2 linked regions of the Homo sapiens genome follow. The protein of the gene in region 1 purifies or fractionates together with the protein of each later gene. This does not show direct contact. Each region holds a gene or a part of one and is shown in the gene's direction. Other genes may lie near its edges. The genes, in order: GALP and ITIH2.

Region 1 (3,818 bases):
GGTTCTATTTTGCTACTTCCCACCTTACACAGTGGAACACTCTGGCTTAAATATTCAGTGCACATCCTCCTTAAGAGTCTGGAATCTACCGGCCGGGCACGGTGGCTCACGCCTGCAATCCCAGCACTTTGGGAGGCCGAGGAGGGCGGATCACCTGAGGTCAGGAGTTTGAGACCAGCTTGGCCAACATGGCGAAACCCCCTGTCTCTATTAAAAATACAAAAATTAGCTGGGCCTTGTGGCAGGTGCCTGTAAGCCCAGCTGCTCAGGAGGCTGAGGCAGGAGAATCGCTTGAATCCAGGAGGCGGAGGTTGCGGTGAGCCAAGATGGCACCACTGCGCTTCAGCCTGGGTGGCAGAGTGAGACGCGAGACTCCATCTCAAAATAAATAAATAAATAAATAAAGAGTCTGGGATCCACCTGGGTTTGAGTCCCAGCTGTTCTTCTTAGTGTGTTGCAATTTGTTGCAATTTGCAGAATCTTTCTGGGCCTCAAGAGCCTCTTTCTTTCTTTTTTTTTTTTTGAGACGGAATTTCGCTCTGTGGCCCAGGCTAGAGTGCAGTGGCGCAATGTCAGCTCACTGCAAGCTCTGCCTCCCAGGTTCACGCCATTCTCGTGCCTCAGCCTCCCGAGTAGCTGGGACTACAGGCACCCGCCACCACGCCCGGCTATTATATATATATATATTTTGTATTTTTAGTAGAGATGGGGTTTCACGTGTTAGCCAGGATGGTCTCGATCTCCTGACCTCGTGATCCGCCAGCCTTGGCCAAGAGCCTCTTTCTAATGAAGCTAATAGCAAGTTTACCTACTAGGGTTGTTGGAGGAAGAGCCTCTCTTTTTTTTTTTTTTTTTCTTTGAGACAGAGTCTCGCTCTGTCACCCAGGCTGGAGTGCAGGGATGAGATCATAGCTCACTGTAGCCTCAAACTCCTGGGCTAAAGTGATCCTCCCACCTACAGGTGTGCGCCACCATGCCTGGCTAATTTTTGTATTTTTTGTTTTGTTTTGTTTTATTGAGACGGAGTCTCACTCTGTTGCCCAGGCTGGAGCGCAGTGGTGCAATCCCCGCTCACTGCAATCTCCACCTCCCAGGTTCAAGCGGTTCTCCTGCCTCAGCCTCCCAAGTAGCTGGGATTATGCCCAGCTAATTTTTTTTATTTTTAGTAGAGACGAGGTTGGCCAGGCTGGTCTTGAACTCCTGACCTCAGGTGATCCGCCCACCTCAGCCTCCCAAAGTGCTGAGATTACAGGCGAGAGCCACCACGCCCGGCCTAATTTTTGTATTTTTTGTAGAGGCGAGATTTCGCCATGTTGGCCAGGCTGGCCTTGAACTCCTGTTCTCAAGCCATCCTTCTGCTTCGGCCTCCCCAAATGCTGGGATTACAGCATGAGCACCACCCCCAGGCTTAACATATCTTTAAAGTGTGCAACACCGTATTGCTGGCTGTGGGCACGATGTTGTGCCATAGAGCTCTAGGACTTCTTCATCCTGCATAACTGAAATTATACCTGTTGAAGAACAATTCCCCATTTCTCCTTCCCCCCAGCCCCCAATAACCACCTTTCTCCTCTCACAACAGAACGCTTTAAGCTTTCTTTCCAGGCCAGTTGGCTTTGTCTCAGGAAGTCCTCAATTTCCTCATCGGTGCAATGGGGATTGAAATGAACCTGCTCCACAGGCCAGTGGGAAAGTCGTATGACGACCCACATCACCCCGGACCTGTGGGACGCCTGCCCCGCTTTCTGTCTGCTTGAGTCTTGATTTCTGCATCTCTATCCAGGGACGAGGAGGCTGGACCCTCAATAGTGCTGGCTACCTTCTGGGTCCCGGTGAGTGAGGCTGCGCTCAGCTCTCCATCCCTGGCCCGAGTCTGCCTGGTTGCTGCAGGCAGTGAGTTTGTGGCTTGTAAAGACCCTCACCCACATTCACTGAGGCCCATGGATTTATTTGCAGATCTGTCTGGAGGGTTAGTCTAAGCAGAGCGATGGGTGTGTGGACTCTGGAGCCAGAGCCTTGGGCCCAAATCCCAGCTCTGCCCCTTGCTTGGTTTGCAACCTTGATCTCTCTCTCTCTCGCTCTCTCACTCTTTCTTTCTTTCTTTCTTTCTTTCTTTTTTTTTTTTTTTTTTTTTTGACAGAGTCTCGCTCTGTTGCCCAGGCTGGAGTGCAATGGTGAATGGTGCGATCTCAGCTCACTGCAACCTCCGCCGCCCGAGTAGTTTAAGCGATTCTCCTCCCTCAGCCTCCTGAGTAGCTGGGATTATAGGTGCCCAACAGCACGCCCGGCTAATTTTTGCATTTTTAGTAGAGATGGGGTTTCACCATGTTGGCCAGTCTGGTCTCGAACTCCTGACCTCAGGTGATCCACTTACTTTTGGCCTCCCAAAATGCTGGGATTACAGGCATGAGCCACCACACCTGGCTGCAACCTTGATCTCCCTATGCCTCAGTTTCCTCATCTGTGACAGTGGGTGTAATGATGGCCCTTACATCCGAGAATGTTGTGAGGATTGAGTTATTAATAGAACAATAGCTGGTGTGTAGTGGGTGCTGTATAATGATTAGCTGCTATTCTTTGTCTCTCTCTCTCCTTTTTTTTTTTTTTTTTTTTTTTTTTGAGATGGAGTTTCGCCTTGTTATCTAGGCTGGAGTGCAGTGGCGCCAATCTTGGCTCACAGCAACCTCTGCTTCCCGGATTCAAGCAATTCTCCTGCCTCATCCTCCCAAGTAGCTGGGATTACACGCATGCACCACAATGCCCCACCGGCTAATTTTGTATTTTTAGTGGAGACGGGGTTTCTCCATGTTGGTCAGACTGGTCTTGAACTCCCAACCTCAGGTGATCCGCCCGCCTCAGCCTCCCAAACTGCTGGGATTATAGGCGTGAGCCACTGCTCCTGGCAACTTTTTTCTCTTTTCCTCCATTTGTCTCTCCCCATTTCTCCAGTTGCATCTTCCCTGGGCAATAGGTGTGCCCATGGCCACGTGCTGCATAGTGAGCATTACATCCATAAAATACCGAGATTCCCGTGGTGCTCAAGGTTGGTTTCAGTTTGAGCTTCATTCAGGGAAACCCAGGCTGCAGAGACAGTGTGGCAGGAGCAGAAAGAACGTGAGATGTGGACCCAGACCTAGGTGGGTTCAAGCCCCAGTCCTGCCATTAGCAGCAGGGTAATTTCGAGCAAGTGACCGCTTGCAGCTGCACGATTTCCCCACCGGTAGGTAGGGACGGTCAACACGCACCCCGTCCGACAGACTTGGTGGAGGCGCTGCGTCCGGTGAGCCATGCTGTTGAATTGATGGACGATGTGTTTCTTCAGTTCTACTTAACCGACCACCTGCTCTTGCTCTCTCCCTCCCTACCCAGTCCTCCACCTTCCCCAAATGGGTGACCAAGACGGAAAGAGGGAGACAGCCCTTGAGATCCTAGACCTGTGGAAGGCCATCGGTGAGTGAGCGGGGAGTTAGACGTCTTCTCCTGCGTCCTCCCCTGCGGGCTCTCTCCTGGCTTTGGAAACTGGTAGATGTGAGCTCCAGCCCTCACCCTGCCGCTTACTATTTGGGGGGCCCTGGGCAAGTGATGCGTTTCCTTCAAGCTTCTGGGCCGTCACCTGGAGCCCCAGCTTGCTTTAATGTTCTTTTGTTACCAACGTGAAATTCCGAATCCTGTTTGAACCATGGGCCCCGTGTTTTCTCTGCATCAGACCTCACAGAATCCCTCCACTTTGAAATGACATAAATGGAATAATCCCATGATTTAGTTGTATGACTCAGTGAGAAAATGCACGTTAATTTCCTAGAAGTGTCTGGCATATG
Region 2 (3,818 bases), on another chromosome or scaffold:
TCCCCAGCATTCGAGGGCCTATCTTAAATAATACATTTATTGGTAATGGATGAATGCTAAGTTTGTAGTGAAAGTAGAATTTGTAATACAGCCCACATAAGCTTTGAACCGTTTTAATGTCTCTCAGAAAAAGGTTCAGTGACACTGGCCTTCTTTATTGCCTGCATAAAGCATAAAATGTTACTATCTTCAGAGTATCTTGGCAAGGCTGATTTGGATACTTTAATCTGGTGTTTAACAAGCTAACAGTCTGTGCTTTGAAAGGGCTAGTTCATCTCTAAGGGGATAGTTTATTTCAAAGTGAATATTTCACTGCACTGGGGGACCACCAGCTTGAGCACAGTTTGTGTCACTCAGAAAGCAATGAAATGATTTTGGCATGGAATAAGTGATGGATAAGTGATCAGCCGACATATGAGTCTGAATCCAGAATGGGATTTTCTGCGTGTGGCGAGAACGCATACCCAACGTTTCATTATGCTACTTCAACAGGCACAAACATCAACGAAGCACTCCTACGGGCAATCTTCATTTTGAATGAAGCCAATAACTTGGGACTGTTAGACCCCAACTCCGTCTCGCTGATCATTTTGGTTTCTGATGGAGATCCAACAGTGGGCAAGTGTCACTTCAACCTTCTCACGACAAACACTTTCACTGTTGTTTCTTGGAATGGTGGTTTGCCTAAAAGGGGAACTCTAATGGCATTTGCCTGAGTTTCTAGAACATTTTAAACCCATGCTTCCTAAAGGAGGTCTTCTGATCCTGCAGCCCTCACCCCTTAAGCTACTGCTCAGACACTTTCAGCAAGGGCGCTCTTGAATGCCTCAGTTCCACCTCCACAATATGCAGAAATCTGAGTCTGAATTTTAATAGTATGTTGTGAGGATTGCTGATGCATTCTAGGGAAATGCATCTATTTCCTCAACTTGAGGTATGTGAAGATGGTGTATGGGGGTGGTGAATGATGAGTATTGATCCCAGATCTCCCAGCAGTACCTTTGGAGGCCACAGTAGCATATTCCCTATTATTCTCCACACTTCTCCCGGTTGCACCTGGAGAAATGACTGCTCTCTGACACAACCTTGAAGTTAAACATTTTTCTTTCTACAAAATGGGCAGCAACATCTCCCTACTTCTATTATTTATTTTTATTTTTGTTACATTAGTTTATTTTATTTATTTTTGAAGACAGGGTCTTGCTCTGTCACCCAGGAGGGAGTGCAGTGGAGCACACACAGCTCACTGCAGCCTCAACCTCCCATGCTCAAGTGATCCTCCTACCTCAGCCTCCTGAGTAGCTGGGACTACAGGTGTGCACCACCACACTCAGCTAATTTCTTTTTTTTCTTTCTTTTTTTTTTTGGAGAGACGAAGTCTCACTATGTTGCTCAGGCTGATCTCAAAATCCTGGGCTCAAGCAGTCCTCCCACCTCGGACTCCCAAAATGTTGAGATTACAGGTGTGAGCCACTGTGCCAAGCTATCTTTGTTTTACTTGTGTCTTTATTCTGGCCACTGTAAGTAATAGCGAATGCCAGATTGTGTTGCCTGAGTGTGCTGTCGTACAGACTAGGACCGAGTCTAACACGTCCTGACACAGCCAAGCAGAATGAAAATGCACGAGGCAAAAACAATGGCAGTCAGAGCTTTAGAAAGCCAGAGAGCAACCATCTTATTAATAACGAGACTAGAATGAGCCAGTGTTATGTATTTGTTGTAGAGCCAATGTTTTCTCCCTCAGATCAGATTATTTTCAAAATTCAAGTTTTGAATGAAATCATAAGGTGGAAAAGGAAATATAGTTTAAAATATTAAACTTGCCAGGCATGGTGGCTCACACCTGTAATCCCAGCACTTTGGGAGGCTGAGGTGGGTGGATCACCTGAGGTCAGGAATTCAAGACCAGCCTGGCCAACATGGTGAAACCCCATCTCTACTAAAAATACAAAATTAGCCTGACAGGGCGGCGTGTGCCTGTAATCCCAGCTATTCGGGAGGCTGAGACAGGAGAATCCCTTGAACCCAGGAGGCGGAGGTTGCAGTGAGCTGAGATCGTGCCACTGCACTCCAGCCTGGGCAACAAAGTGAGACTCTGTCTCAAAAAAAAAAACAAAATTAAACCATAATTTGGTTTAATCATGGTTTCTCACTCCTGTTTCTCAACCATTCAGTTCCTGTCCCTGGAATCAGTCACTGGTTACCAGTTTCTTGTGTATCTTTCCACAAATAGTTTATGCATGCCTGTATACTATATATACATGTTTGCACACATGTATGTGTATATGCATACATACACATACATACATTTATACATGCATGCATGCAAATGCATCCTAGGTACCCTGATATTTACCTTGTTTTTTTTTTCTCCTCTAAACATGCCCTTGAGATTGTCTGGTATACATACATAAGGAGTTTCCATGTCCTTTTTAATAGCTGCATAGTATCTCACGGTTTAAATGTATCATCATCTAACCAAGCGCCCTCATTGGTGCATATTTATGTTGTTTCCAATATGTTGCTAATTCCCAAATAATGTTGCTATGCAACACAACCCACACTTCATTTCAACATGTACGAGTGCATCTCTAAGAAAAACTAGAAATTGAGTTACTGGGTCAAAAGGGAAATGCAGTTTTAATCTGGACACACTTTACTAAACTGCCCTCCCTGGATTTTCCAGAAAATTTATGATATTGCTTCTTCATTCCTTTCCTTTCGGACATCACCAACTTTAGGCGAACTAAAACTGTCAAAAATTCAGAAAAACGTTAAGGAGAACATCCAAGACAATATCTCCTTGTTCAGTTTGGGCATGGGATTTGATGTGGACTATGATTTTTTGAAGAGACTGTCCAATGAAAACCATGGAATTGCACAAAGGATTTATGGAAACCAGGACACGTCTTCCCAGCTTAAGGTAACATTTTCTTCTGTTCTTTTTTTATTCTTCACTGGAAATCATTTAACTACCCATATCTGATGCAGGTATGATGCATAACTGAACTTAACTCAAAATGGTCATGATCTCAGCCATATTTGGTTGCAAGGATCAGGGAAGTGCCCAGTTCCTTTCTCACATGTTTCCCCCCACCCTCATATTTCTGCAGTAACAGTGAGGTATGAGGCAGATGGGTGTTGGGAACAGCTGTCCTACCCCCTGAACAAAAAGGCCTTCTGAGCGTCATCAAAGCTCCTTGTAGCTCTCCTGCCCCACCAGCAATTGGTCTTCTTATCATCATGGCCAACCGTTTTCTCTTTAACGTGCATTGGCATCTTGGTATCAATTTTTCACAGTGTAAATTTTCTTAAGTATTAAGATACAGGCTGAGTGTGGTGGCTCATGCCTGTAATCCCAGCTCTTTGGAGGCCAAGGTGGGAGGATCACTCGAGCCCAGAGGTTTAAGGCCAGCTTGGGCAACATAGTGAGATCCATCTGTTCAACAGATAATTTTTTTAATTAAAATACATATATTGAAAAGACACAAACTACTTGTTTGTTTTGATTAAATAGATGAGAAAATGATGTAGGGAAAGAACATGTTTTTCCCTGCTCTTTGTCAGTACCAGGCATCGTATTTAAATTTGGGAACAAGTAAGAGATAAGATTCTGATTTGGGGACTATTAACCCAGCTGACTTTTGTAAAAATTTAATTATTACTATTATTTTTTGAGACAGAGTCTTGCTTTGTCACCCAGGCTGGGTGACAAGTACGTTCAATGGCAGTGCAATGGTGTGGTGCAGTGGTTCAGGAGTGCAGTGCTGCGATCTCGGCTCACTGCAACCTCCGCCTCCTGGGTTCAGGCGATTCTC

Evidence for each region.
Region 2: the proteins of GALP (region 1) and ITIH2 purify together in Homo sapiens (affinity purification with mass spectrometry; one large-scale study listed by BioGRID and IntAct). This does not show direct contact.

The regions. Positions count from the first base shown.
Region 1 is NC_000019.10:56,178,803-56,182,620, forward strand, and holds part of GALP (galanin-like peptide isoform 1 precursor), read left to right. Parts: intron 1-1,783; coding exon 1,784-1,832; intron 1,833-3,369; coding exon 3,370-3,450; intron 3,451-3,818.
Region 2 is NC_000010.11:7,727,211-7,731,028, forward strand, and holds part of ITIH2 (inter-alpha-trypsin inhibitor heavy chain H2 precursor), read left to right. Parts: intron 1-492; coding exon 493-618; intron 619-2,741; coding exon 2,742-2,923; intron 2,924-3,818. UniProt on the Homo sapiens protein: May act as a carrier of hyaluronan in serum or as a binding protein between hyaluronan and other matrix protein, including those on cell surfaces in tissues to regulate the localization, synthesis and degradation of hyaluronan which are essential to cells undergoing biological processes.